2 linked regions of the Homo sapiens genome follow. The protein of the gene in region 1 interacts with the protein of each later gene in a biochemical or structural test. Each region holds a gene or a part of one and is shown on either strand. Other genes may lie near its edges.

Region 1 (8,708 bases):
GTTAGCCAAGTGTTAAAATTAGAACATTTACACATATATATATATATATATATATTTTTTTTTTCATAAATACAGTTCTGCACTTTTCACAGCATAGAAATTTAGTGAAAGCGCACTGCTATTTTCAGGATTCTTTCCTCCAGGGGAGGTCTACTTCTTCAGAAGGTTCAAATTCAGAGGGCAAAAGAAGGCAACCACCTTCCTCCCTTGCCTCATGGCTCCCAGGTGGTGGGGGAAGAAAGGCGAAAAAGGATAAAAAGATAGAGAAAGACAGAGAAGATGGAATGGTTCAAAATTAAAAAAAAAAAAAAACAAAAAAACAACCCATCCAAAAAAGCATCAAAAACTCAGGTAATTACTGAGGGTCTTATATCAACAACTAAAAAGAAAAGAAAGTAAAGGAAACAGATGTATGTGATGTATGCAAGAACTGAGACTAGTGCACAATATGTTTCTCTAAACCAGAGGCCAAAACGGGTTACCAAACTGTCAACAAAATTCCAAAATGTGCAAAAAAAGGTATGTATTCATCTTCCATCTGAATTAGTATCTTTTCAAAGCCCTCCTGTAACAGAATTATTCCTTCCAAAATGCTTTAATAATTCAATACTGTGCTTATAGTGGCTATTTAGATGCTCTAAAATTCACAAAATATATTACATATGTAATCATACGTGTGGCTGTATAAGTATCATGCTACCATCCCTGCTCTACAGACGAAATGGAGGCATTTAAGTCTTGCCTTAATTTACCCAGAAAGTGAGTTAATCTGCTATTAGAACCATGGATAAAGATATTCTGTAACTATGCAGTTGTACGTATACACATAGATAACCCATAAGCCATCATTTCCAGATTCTTATTAGAAACAAGCTGAAGACGTGTACACATCTGTCAGATACACACGTGGGTGCACACAGACATCTATGTAACAGATGAACAGCAGTCCACTTTCCAACTGCAGGGACCTCTTTAAGGATGCCGTTGCTGGATGCTCATCAAATATAAATCCTTTTATCTCTGACAGTATCTAAACAAAGTCTCTTTGTAAAGAGACTTCAAACTTCTGGCTTAGAAGCTGAGGAGGGAAGAGAGAATGAGAGAGAAGAAAACAGTAGGAGAGAAAAGAAAAGAACGTGTGGGCGTGGATGTGAAAGTGAGGAACTAAGAAACCAGGCAGTTTGAAACGACCCCCTCAGAGCCGGGGCATGGGGAGGACTCCTACTCACATCCATTGGACGTTGTTTTTAGACTTCTTCTTAATGAGGTGGATGCCTTCCAGAACGTTGGTGATATCATAAATCCTTCTCTTTTGCACTTTTAGCACTTCTGCTGCCTTGTTCAAATCCAATACCCCATCGGGTGACTGGCTCAGGAGCTGAATGAACTTCTTGGTGAGCAGACCAAGAGACGTATCATACCGCGTTTTTTCTGAGGGAGATTTTGGAGCTTAAAGAAAAACAAAAACCGAGCGGGTGGGGGATAGGGGGAAAGGTAAAGAAATGAAGGGTGTCTTTGCAGTCAAGCAAGCTCTCTTTCCCACTGCAGCCAAAGTATTAGTATCTGAAGCAAGGCTGTCGTTGCTGTTGGTGTTGGCAAGTCATAGAAAGCTATGAAAGTTTTTTATTAGAGCAGGAAGGGAAGGTAAAAATTCCAGGGTTTGATTAAAGCATTTCACCTTGAATTTCTCAAGAGTTTCTACCTTGACTTACACCATTCCCTGGCTCCAATGAAGAATTTACATATAGCGGGCGCTAAAAAATATCTGTCAAATGAATGAAAGAGTGCTGTGGCCTCAGGGGACCAGCACACACGAGGCCTACGGTGATGGAGCCAGGCTATGAGTCTCACTAGCACTGCAGGACAAGGTCTTAAACAGACCCATCTCAAATGGCCTTTCAGGCTCTGGTATCTGTGTGTGCGTGTATCACCTGTTCACCAATTTTCCAAACAATGCTTCATTTTGATAAATAATTACCTGGAAAAGTCTTCTGCCAAATCTCCCCATCTCTCTTAAAGGAAATTTCCTTACTTAATATTGTACTTGTTCCCCCATAGGTGCACAGGTCAAGGTTTTAATTTAGTGTCACACAATTTGTGGATTGCCTAATGCATGAACTAAAGGAAGAGAGAGAACAAAGTCTAATTTAGCCCTTATGTTAAATGCAAACACATACATAATGGGACTAGTTGGCTATTTCTAACCTACGTTTCTCTCTCTCCCACAAGAAACGGTAATAGTATTTGATAGAAAGAGAAACAGCCTGCAATTTATCGGGCTCAATCAATTCTTACGCTATCATATGCTGAGCTGGAGATTGAGGTCGGCACAGACACTGGTGACTCTGGCATAGTTCGTGGACATCCAGTTTGCCTCAGACTCTGAAGCAATGTCCATTAAGGGAAGTTAAAATTAAATTTGATATAGAATGGTGCCAAAAGTTCGTATTCCGAGTTGAAAAATGAAACTACATACAGTTAAAAGAAGTCTTCCCTTATGGTACCAGTGTGACTCTGTAGCCTTTCACTGGTTGTCTGCTGACATTGTATTTATTTTTTTGGATAAGCACAGAAAGAAATGAAAAAGAACAAAACATGCCAGAATTATTCACACCTTGGCATCCTTCCGGCCATAAGCTTTGAAACTTGGAAATGCCATACCAAGGAGAATAAGGAAAGAGATGAAAAGATCCTTACTTTTTGGACTATCTGGACTTCGTAGTGCAGCTCTTCCTTTGCCCTTGGGGGTTTTTAAACCATCTGAGAGGTACTGATGACCGCTTTCTCCTAGCTCCAGCCTTCGCTTTGCCTGTAATAAGAAAGTGCGATCTCTCGTCACCGGTCATATGGACAAGAACAAGAAGGGAGGCAGTTTGTGGGCTGGCCTGCCAAATGCTGCAGGCTCATGCCAGCTCTCACCCCTCTGCTCCACCCCACTCAGCATCTTGTCATTCCCTAGAGCCAGGATTCTAGCGTTGTAGGCTGGGTTGTCATGCACACTCTCTTCACCTGCCGTGATCATCCGTCCACACCCAGATGGACAAACACAGCGATCCTTCAGCATTAGGTTCAGGAGTCACTTTGTTCATTGATTCAACACATCATGTGCCTGGCATGGGGTTGGATGCTAAGAATATCACAGGCGCCGTGGGGCTTAAATTCCCTTTCCACAGTGAGTCTTTCCTGCCCATCTCCCATTCTCCGACCTGGGTTGGACCCCCTTCCTTGTGCTCCCCAAACACTCTGTGTTTATTTGTATCATGACACTTATTCGGTATTACTGTAAGACTTATCTGTTTCTCATTTCCTTTAAGGCAGGGACTGTTTCCCATTTATCTTTGTATACCCAGTGCTTGGCACAGAGCCTGGGTTTCTGTAGATTTTCAATCACTCTCTCTATATACTGTATATTCAATGAGAGAAAGGGTGATTGGATCGTAACACAACTAGTCACAGACTACAAACGGCCCTTCATCGGGAAAACAAATACTGCAAACATGCAATCTTGGGCTTCAACCACTATTACTTTCTCCATTTTCTTATCAAGCCTAGCAAATGAGAAGCCCTTATCTAAGTTTTTAATTTAACTCCAATTAAATTTTAAAATATCCACATAGCGTCTTCTAGGTACCTAGGCATTGGGCTTAGTAAGCAAGATAGATAAGGGGCTTCGAGTCCAAGAGAAAAGATAGATGGTTAAGCAGTTGTTAAGTACTAATTGTATGGGTATGACAGGTGTTTTAGAAAATAAATGGCACCAACTGGACACTCAGCACAAAAATATGTATTTAGGCTCATTTTCAGGCAGATTCTTCTAATGAGGAGATTTGCAGTTTCTTTTTTTTAAGACAGAGTCTTGCTCTGTCGCCCAGGCTGGAGTGGAGTGGCGCGATCTTGGCTCACTGCAACCTCTGCCTCTGAGTTCAAGTGATTCTCCTGCCTCAGCCCTCCCCAAGTAGCTGGGACTGCAGGTGCACGCCACCACTCCCAGCTAATTTTTGTATTTTTAGTAGAGACGGGGTTTCGCCATGTTGGCCAGGCTGGTCTCGAAGTCCTGATCTTTGGTGATCTGCCCACCTTGGCCTCCCAAAGTGATGGGATTACAGGCGTGAGCCACTGTACCCAGCCGAGAGTTGCAATTTCAAAACAACTCCCCGTGATGTGAAAACGTAAGTAATAACTTATCAGCGGAAGCTAGATATTCAGCCCCTCTATGGAAAGTTACCAGCTAACCCTGCACCGTCTACTACGATAGCCACTGGTTACTAGCTCATCCAAACTGACATGTGCTATAATTGTAAAATACACACTGAATTTCGAAGACTTAGTACAAAACAGGGTAAAATATCTCAACAATTTTAGTAGTGATCACATGTTAAATGAAATAAATAAAATACAACTGACCCTTGAACAACATGGGTTTGGACTGTCCGTTTCCACTGATTTTATTTTTTTAGAGACAGGGTCTTGCTCTGCCGCCCAGGCTGGAGTGCAGTGGTGTGATCTCAGCTCACTGCAACCTTGTCCTCCCAGGCTCAAGGAATCCTCCCATCTCAGCCTCCTGAGTAGATGGGACCACAGGTGCACACCATGATGTCTGGCTAATTTAAATTTTTTTTTTTTTGGGTAGAGATGGGGCCTCTGTATGTTGCCCAGGCTGGTGTTGAACTCTTGGGCTCAAGTGATCCTCCTGCCTCATCCTCCCAAAGTGCTGGGATTACAGCCGTGAGCCACTGCACCCGGCCATGAGTGTGTCCACCTATATGTGGGTTTTCTTCTTCCTCTGTCATCCCTGAGACAGTAAGACCAACCCCTCCTCTTTTCTTTCACCACACCTTCCTCAATGTGAAGATAACGAGGATGAATTTTATGATGATCCACTTCCAGTAATGAATAGTAAATCTATTTTCTCTTCCTTATGATTTTTTTTTCATCCAGCTGCTTTATATGCCCATATGCCTTCTACACTTTGAACCCTGGACCAAGTTCAGCTGCTAGGAAACGCAAATTCCAGAGCATACCTAAGATGCATTGGATCAGAAACTCTGGGAATGGGGCTGAGCAATCTAACAGGCCTTCCAGGTGATTCTGATACACCTTAAAGTTGGAGAAACCTGGCTTTAGATCATAAGGGAAAAGAGTAAGACACTCAGGCAAAGCCCAGCTCTGCCCAGCACGGCCTATTTCACACACCCTCACCTCTAGTCCTGCTTGGCTGATGAGGGAAATCTATCCTGTGGATTCCACTTTCATTCATTCCAAACTTTCTTTTATTGATAACATTTCCTCTCTAACTTCATTGTAAGAATACAGTATATAATACATATACCATATGAAATGTGTTAATGACTGTTTATGTTATTGGTAAGGCTTCTAGTCAACAGTAGGCTATTAGGGCTGGGTGCATGGATCACACCTGTAATCCCAGCTACTCAGGAGGATGACTTGAGGCCAAGAGTTCAAGACCAGCCTGATCAACGTAGCAAGACCCCCCATCACTAAAATAATAATGAAAACCCCAAACAACAGGCTATTAGTTAAGTTTAGGGGAGTCAAAAGATCTATCTAAATTTTTGACTGTGTCAGGGCACCTCTAACCCCAATGTTGTTAATGGGTCAGATGTAGCATTAAAATTATTTCATCTGTTTCTTTATATATATATTTTACGATGTGGCTTGCCTCAGTGGCACACCTTATCTTTCTACTGCAGTGCTAAGTTAAACATCATTCTAATGGCTCCGGAAGGACAATCTGCTTGCTGGACTTCATCTTCCCCTCCCAGCCATTCTGTCAAGTCCTTGTGTGGGCCTGCTGTGGTTGGTCCAGCAAACATTCACTCTTTATCAGGCAGAAGCTCCCTGTTTGTTCCTTGGGGAGCCATCCCTTTCCTGGTCTAAGCGCATCTGTGCACACAGGTGATCCAGGCCTGGCTAATCATTGTGGCCCATCCTGCCCTCCCCGCCCCCACCGCGAACAGGTTGAATGGCTTATGACCAAGGCTGGAGGAGCAAAGGCTAACCCCAGGAATGTTTCTGGAACTATCTGGCAAGAAGCAGGTATGTCTTTCCAGTAAGGTTGGTAAGTGAGGAGCCTAAAGCTGCCTGAGAATGGGGCCTTCCCAGGGGAAAGCAGAGTGGAGAGAAGGAGAGAGAGGGGTCTGAGACCACCACTCAAAACTCTGGCTCTGGTCATGCCCTGGGGGCAACTGTTGGTCTTTCCCAGACTTTCCAGTTACATTAGCCAATAAACTCTCCTTTTTGCTTAAAGCATTTTTTTTTTTTGAGACCCGGAGTCTCGCTCTGTCACCCAGGCTGGAGTGCAGTGGTGCAATTTCAACTTATTGCAAGCTCCGCCTCCCGGGTTCATGCCATTCTCCTGCCTCAGCCTCTCGAGTAGCTGGGACTACAGGCGTCCGCCACCACGCCCGGCTAATTTTTTGTAGTTTTAGTAGAGACGGGGTTTCACCATGTTAGCCAGGATCTTCTTGATCTCCTGACCTCGTGATCCGCCTTCCTCGGCCTCCTCAAGTGCTGGGATTACAGGCGTGAGCCACCGTGCCCAGCTGCTTCAAGTGTTTTGAGTCGGGAACCTAGAATTGTGCTGTTGCCAGTGACAGCTTATGGAACTGGCTGAGTCAAGATGGCTATGGTGTGACAGGGAGTTGGCAGGCCTTGTTAGAGAGTGGCAGAGTGTGTTGGTCACTTCTTGTGACCGCCAGGAAGATACTACAGATAGAGAGAAACTTCATCTGAGGCTGGCCCGCCTCAAAGAAAACAGCTTTGCTATGGAGGCCTTCTCTACAGAAAGCAATCTAAGGAGACATAGAGCTGTATTCTCTGCCCAAATTAAAGTCAACAAATGGGCTGGGCACAATGGCTCACGCCTGTAATCCCAGCACTTTGAGAGGCCGAGGTAGGCAGATCACCTGAGGTCAGGAGTTTGAGACCAGCCTGGTGAAACCCTAACTCTACTAAAAATACAAAAAGTAGCCCAGCATGGTAGCATGCACCTGTAGTTCCAGTTACTTGGGAGGCTGGGGCATGAGAATTGCTTGAACCTGGGAGGTGGAGGTTGGTGCCTCCGCAATCCAGCCTGGATGACAGAGAAAGACTCTTGTCTCAAAAAATGAAAATAAAGTGAACAGAAAGAAGGCAAACTTGGAAAAGAGTCTGGGACCCAGAACTCCTAGGGACCTAGGGCCGTGCCTCAGCAGTAAAGAACCACCCACTGGTCAGCAGGCTGGGGGCATACTAGTTTTATCTCTCCCTCCCAGGCTGCTGTTTCAGACTGCCATGAGGCAAAGGCCTATGGAACCATTAAACTGTAGGTTAGGGAAATTTCCATGTCTGCTGCTAAGTGACTGAGACTTAACTTCGAAAGACCGGGACTAGTCTTCATGTGTAACTCTCGTTACTAAGCACCAAACCATAAATTGACCAAATTTGAATGCTAGATGGACAAGCTACTAAAATTGCAAGGCACTTTTATTGCGAAAGAATCACTAAGTCTAGAAAGTGAAGGTCCATGATGTTGAACCTCTAAGGAAATCAATCACTAGGTCCAAAAGCCACGCCAGAAATAAGTGAGGTGTGAAGAAGGGGCAGCCCCAGAATTCCTCCCAGGAGGTGGAACTTGGGGTGGACTTATAGGCTCTACAAACTGCTGTCCCTGTGGAGGACATGACAAGAAGCAGGAGGTGAGCACTTTATGTCATTTCCCCTTTTCAGAAGGGAGGTTCCCGTTGGGTTATCCTGTTATTTTTCCTCCCCTGTTGAGTGAACAGGGAGGGCGGAACTGGATTTGTGGGGACCACATATTACCTGTTTGGTCTCAGATCTGAACATGGGTGCAATAATTAGAATCTCTTGAAAAAGGGCTAAGAATTTTGATATTTGATGGAGCAGCATTATTTTAATGCTTAACTTAGCAAATTCAAGCACACATGCCTGGTAAAACAAAAAACTATATGACAGGATTTAAATAGTGCGGGTGAGCTCTGTCTACACCACCCTGCCCTGGGCTGAGCACCAGGGTAGATGGAAATCTCTTCTCTTGGTCATCTCAATTTTTGTTAGTTCACAGCGTGAGCATCGTACTGATTGGAGAGGTATTCATTGTTTATGCACAGATCTTTACATTACATGGCCCCTACCAGTAAAACAGCCAACTTATCCAGTAATCAACAGAAGGATGGGCCATTTGGTTCCAAGCAGTGGTAAAGCCTGGCTCTGTGAGATTCTGTGTGGAACTCCATGTGGCACCTTCCGGCAGTACTTTCAAGGGTAACTTGTACTATAAACAAGGTATGTGCTAACGTTAAAACCTCAGCCCCATGGACGTTAACATGCCTCTGCAAAGAAACAGTTGTACTGGTAAGCAGTTCTGAAAATCTATGTAGGAAAATGTATGTAGTTAGAGCTGGGTGCAATGGTAATGCGCCTGTAGTCCCAGGTACTTGGGAGACTGAGGCAAGAGGATCACTTGGGCCCAGGAGTTTGAGACCAACCTGGGCAGCACAGCAAGTCTCCCATCTCTCTCTCTCAAAACGAAAAAAAACCACAAAACCCCAAAAGAATTACCACTGGAGCCAGTGGGGAACATCTATAGTCTGCCTGCCTGATATTTGTTGCCCCTATTTTTTTTCCACTGGGGAAGGAGCTCTACTGATGTTCTTAGTTTCTATTAGTCTCCAAGCATGAAAAGACAA
Region 2 (5,652 bases), on another chromosome or scaffold:
TTATGAAAGGTGAGTTTTTAATTTTAGAAAGATTTAATTTGTAGCTTTGAATTATTCACATAGACTTGAATATTTTGTTTTCTATAGGGAAATAAAAGGATCAAGAGAGAAGGTCATTAGTGATAAAGATCTAGAGTTGTTGTTAGATCGAAGTGATCTTATTGGTAAGTATTATGCTTTTTTTTAATGGAAGCTTCGAAACATACACTTAATTAGCATAATGTAATGAACCCCTTGTGCAATTCATTCAGCCACATGTATCCAATCTTGTTTTATTGTCATTTTTCTTCTTAGAGTATTAAAATCAAATCTCAGACATGACATTTTGCCCATAAATGTCATTATCTTTAACTTCTTCCATAATTCAGATATTTTCTGTAAACTGGTAAATAACACTTGTAAATGAATATATTCAAGTTCCTGTCTTAGTTAAGAATACCAGTGCTTTGTTCTCATATTTTTCGTCATACCAGGAGGCACATCGTATCTGGATTTCTTATTTCCAGTGAGCTAAGATTAATCAAGATAATGTTATAAAGTGTCTTGTCAGCCTTCATCCTTTACTTAACACGATGATTTATTTTATTTTATTTTATTTTTTTGGAGACAGAGTCTTGCCCTGTCGCCCAGGCTGGAGTGCGCTGACACGATCTCAGCTCACTGCAACCTCAGCCTCCTGGGTTCAAGGGATTCTCCTGCCTCAGCCTCCCTAGTAGCTAGTATTACAGTCGCCTGCCACCACACCTGGCTAATTTTTGTATCTTTAGTAGAGACAGGGTTTCGCCATGTTGGCCAGGCTGGTCTTGAACTCCTGATTTCAGGTGTTGTGCCCACCCCAGCCTCCCAAAGCACTGGGATTACAGGCATGAGCCACTGCACCAAGCCTAACGTGGTGATTTTTAGTATCCCTTGAAAGTGGCTGATAAGAACCATTATTAACTTAATCATTGCAAAATGGTGATTTTTCTTGTTCTGTCATTCTTTTATTAGCTGGGTTATTTAAGAACTTTCCCTTACAGTTTCCCTGAGATAGAAGAGAGCCAGGATATATTGCTTCTTTTTTTTTTTTTTATCAGTTTTTAGAATACCACCTTATGATCTGATGCCTACAGTGATGACCATGAATTATTTTGAAAACAAAAATAATATTTTGTACTTCATAATTTCCTAATTATTTTACAACATATTACTGTCGTCTAGGCTATTGATTATTTGTCTGTTGCATCTGTATGGTGGAGATACTGTATAATCTTTTTTTCCCAACTGTATTCCGTGACATTTTGGTCTTTTGAAATTGGTGATGGCAGTAACATTCATATCACGGATACAGGCAGAAACTAGAAACCCCAGTCTTTGTTTTTAACAAAAAAGGGTCTTGCTTTGTATTCCTGGCTAGAATGCAGGAGTGCGACTATAGCTCATTGCAGCCTAAAAGTCCTGGGCTCAAGGGATCCTCCAGCCTCAGCCTTTGGAGTAAGCTGGGATTATAGGCATGAGCCATTGTGCCTCAGTTTTTGTTTTTTTTGAGACCCAATTGTTAAACATTTACCTGCGTGGCACTGGCTACAGTGTCATGATATCTTATTTTCAAATATGTTGTTCATTTTAAAATTCAATTCTGTGTCTTATTGAATCAAAATAAAATATATTGGTTGGAAGTTTTTTTTTTTTTTTTTTTAATCAGATGTATTTTCCAAACATTTTCTTCTACTCTGGCCTGTCTCTTCACTTACTTACTTAGTATCTTCTGAAGAGCAAAAGTTTTAAATTTTAATGAATTTCAATTTTAACAAATTTTTTTCTGTTCACTCATGATTTTTATGTCATCTGTAACTACTCTTTGCCTAATTCAAGGTGTTGATATTTTCTTTTAATAGTTTTATAGTTTTTGCTCTTACATTTAGATCTATGATCTATTTTCAATGAATTTTCATCTTTTTGCATGTCAATATTAATTTGTTAAAAAGATGATCCTTTTTCTATTGGATGGCCTTGTCATCCTTGATGCAAATAATTTGATCATAAATATAAGGATTTATTTCTGTATTCTCAATTCTGTCCCATTGATCTCTGTGGTATTCCTATGCCAGTATCGCACTGATTTAATTAAGGTAGCTTTATGGGAAGTGTACTTTCTCTAGTTTTGTTCTTTTTCAAAATTGTTTTAGATATTCTGGATTATTTGCATGTTTATTTGAGTTTTAACTTTGAAATAGTTTAGGGAGAAATATGAGACATACAGCATCATGGTCAAATCTAAACTATATTAAAAAACAACATTATGTGAGGCATGTAAGGACTGTTTAACATCTGATAATATAATTCATATCAATTAAATAATGGAGAACTAGATGATCACCTAATTAGATACCAAAAACCAACTTGCCATAATATCGTAATCATCTTCATAATTTTTTTTTATTTGAGACAAAGTCTCGTTCTGTCACCGAGGCTGGAGTTCAGTGGTGTGATCATGGCTCACTGCAGCTTTAACCTGCTGGGCTCAATCAATCCCCACACCTCAGCCTCCCAAGTTGCTGGGACTGCAGGTGTGATTACTATGTCCTGCTAATTTTGTTTTGTGTATTTTGTAGAGACAGGGGTTTGCCATGTTGCTCAAGCTGGTCTCACACTCCTGGGCTCAAGTGATCTGTCTGCCTCATCCTCCTAAAGTGCTGGCATTATCGAAACTGCTTTTATTTGCAAGTGGTCTGGTTTGATTATCTTCATAGGAAGTCCAAGGGAATCCAGAATCTTTTAAAATAGAATTTAAGAAGATTGCTTATTAATAATATGTGTAACAGCAATAATTGTTTAATAATGAAGGTTTTTACAACAGCTACAAAATTAACATGCCTACAATTAAAGTTTAACAATTTTTAACATGTTTATATAAGGACAGAATTATGAAACATTGAAGGACGTTAATAGAAAGACTGAGTAAACATGCAGATTTAGCTGTATTTGTGGATATGAATGGTTACTACAAAGTGTAAGTCAGTGGTCCCCAAAACTAACTTATATTCTTGAATTTTTCTTCTAATTAAAATCCCAGAATGATGGCTGGGTGTGGTGGCTCATGCCTATAATCCTATCACTTTGGGAGGCTGAGGCAGGTGGATTGCCTGAGCTCAGGAGTTAGAGACCAGCCTGGGCAACACGGTGAAACCCTGTCTCTACTAAAATAGAAAAAATTAGCGGGGCATGGAGGCATGTGCCTATAATCCCAGCTACTCAGAAGGCTGAGGCAGGAGAATTGCTAGAACCTGGCAGGTGGAGGTTGCAGTGAATGGAGATTGTGCCACTGCACTCCAGCCTGGGTGACAGAGCGAGACTCTGTCTCTTAAAAAAAAAAAAAAAAATCCCAGAATGACTTTTTGTAAAACAGACTGTTGTTAAAATTTATATGAGAGAGTAATAAAGGGCCAGAACCAAGACAGTTTTGAAGCACAAGATATTCTATACCAGGTATAAAGTCTTATTAAAAATTTAAAAGTCATAATAATCAAGATGGTAGAATTAGCACATGGTGTGATATATTGGCTAGAAGTACAATATGGTGAATCTAGAAAGACAACTTTCACGAAAAGCTAATAAATGTGAAATGGAACTTCAAACAACTGATAGGAAATTCCTATTAATCAATAGATGATCTGGGGAAATAGTAATTAATAGGGGAAAAATTAACTTAGATTCTCCTCTCCTCACACTGCACTTACAAACTTCAGATAAATTAACAATCCACGTGTTCAAAACCTAAATATTAAAGGTAGAATTTTAACCTAAAAAGACAAGAAAATATATTTATGATTTTAGAATTAGAATTCTTTATAATACAGAAATCACAAATTATATGATAGGTTTCATAGATTTTAATTACATTAATAGGAAAGACTACTATAAGACAGATGACACCATAAAGAGATAAGAGACAAACCACAAATAATATTTGCAACATATAACAGGAAGTGTTTAGGATATGCAAGTAAATAAAAGTTGATAATGAAAACGGATAATATAAGAGCAGGCTATTACCAAGAGAGAAAGAAATGTCTGATGAACAGACAAGGATGATTAGAAATCAGTAATACAAATGAAAATCAGATTTCATTTCACAGCTGTCATGTTGATAAAAATTTAGGAGACTACATATTGTCATTGATTCAAAATGTTTCTCAAGGTAAGCTTTTTGTGGTGTGTTTTCAGCTATTAAACGAATCGTGATTGGGCCTCTTTTTAAAACGTTTCTGACAACATGATTCAAATTGATATTATTTATTGCTCTTTGACTTGTTTATCTTACCTTAAATTCAGCAAAAGCGATTTTGACTAGCAAACTGATGCTTTAGATTGTATGCTCCCAAGAGTCTGATTCTAGTTGTTGTATTAAGAATAGTGTACCTTTTTGCTTTCACTGCTATTAAATCTTGGTGATTAAGGAAGAGAGTGCCCTGTATTACTGTGAGTTTTATAATTTTGGACAGATGACTCACTTCTCATAACATCATATTGGATGTTTCTTTTACGATTTCTTCTTCTTATACTTCTAAAATGTACCTGTTTTAATGTTTTTCCCTTAGATCAAATGAATGCTTCAGGACCAATTAAAGAGAAGATGGGGATATTCAAGATATTAGAAAATTCTGAAGATTCCAGTCCTGAATGTTTGTTTTAAAGTGGAGCTCAAGAATAGCTTTTAAAAGTTCTTATTTACATCTAGTGATTTCCCTGTATTGGGTTTGAAATACTGATTGTCCACTTCACCTTTTTTATTATATCAGTTGACATGTAACTAGTACCATGCGTACTTAAATAGATGGTAATTTTCTGAGCCTTACCAAGAACAAAGAAGTATCCATATTAAGTTTAGATTTTCAGTTAATTTTTGAGACTGAGTAGTATTCTTGGATACAGGCTGATGTGTACTTAACCACTTCCAGATTTATACAGTCTTCCTGTGGAAGTTTAGTAAATGTCTTTTTCCCTCCTTTCTTCTAGTAATGCAGTTCATGGGCTTTAGGTACTTCAGTTATGAAGTAGGCTTTTCATGGGGAGAGATTGGGATTATGCTCTCTGTTGTTTAAGAAACTGTTTGATTTTAGAGTCTATTTCTATGAGATAGTTTACCAAATAAATGTTCCTTATAAGATGATCTCATTAAATTATTTCTTCAGGAATAGCTTAGGTGCAATAATAGCAAAAGACTTGGCTGTCGGTAGGATTTGGTTATTTTGTTTTCTTGGTTTCATTCACTAGTACTATAGGAGTGTGTCATATAGAGATTTCAAGTGGACATTGTGTTAGCACAAGAGAAGTTTCTGAATGAAACTTTAGGGTCTTGAGAAACGACTAGAAATTGGAAATGGTAGTGTATCATGCAAAACAAGACAGACCCTGAAAATTTATAGTAGTGGGTTAACTAGAACCAAATATAAGAGAATAGGCCTTAGGAATATGTAAGTAATGCACAATCTGTAATAGAACAGCATAAAGGCCAAAAGAGGCACAATTTAGACCCTGTGTGAAAGGATATCAGACAATGAGGAAGAGAAATCCTGAATGTACCCTGGAGAGGGGACATACTCCATAAGCCATACATTTCTGTGTTAGTGTTTATTTCATGGAAAAATATTGCTGTTGCCATGTATATTC

Evidence for each region.
Region 2: the proteins of E2F3 (region 1) and HELLS form a complex in vitro, tested with the Homo sapiens proteins (one study listed by BioGRID).

What each region holds. Positions count from the first base shown.
Region 1 is NC_000006.12:20,473,947-20,482,654, reverse strand, and holds part of E2F3 (transcription factor E2F3), read right to left. Parts: intron 2,810-8,708; coding exon 2,698-2,809; intron 1,450-2,697; coding exon 1,230-1,449; intron 1-1,229.
Region 2 is NC_000010.11:94,596,948-94,602,599, forward strand, and holds the end of HELLS (lymphoid-specific helicase), read left to right. Parts: coding exon 1-9; intron 10-87; coding exon 88-164; intron 165-4,580; coding exon 4,581-4,675; 3' UTR 4,676-5,152; downstream 5,153-5,652. UniProt on the Homo sapiens protein: Plays an essential role in normal development and survival. Involved in regulation of the expansion or survival of lymphoid cells. Required for de novo or maintenance DNA methylation. May control silencing of the imprinted CDKN1C gene through DNA methylation.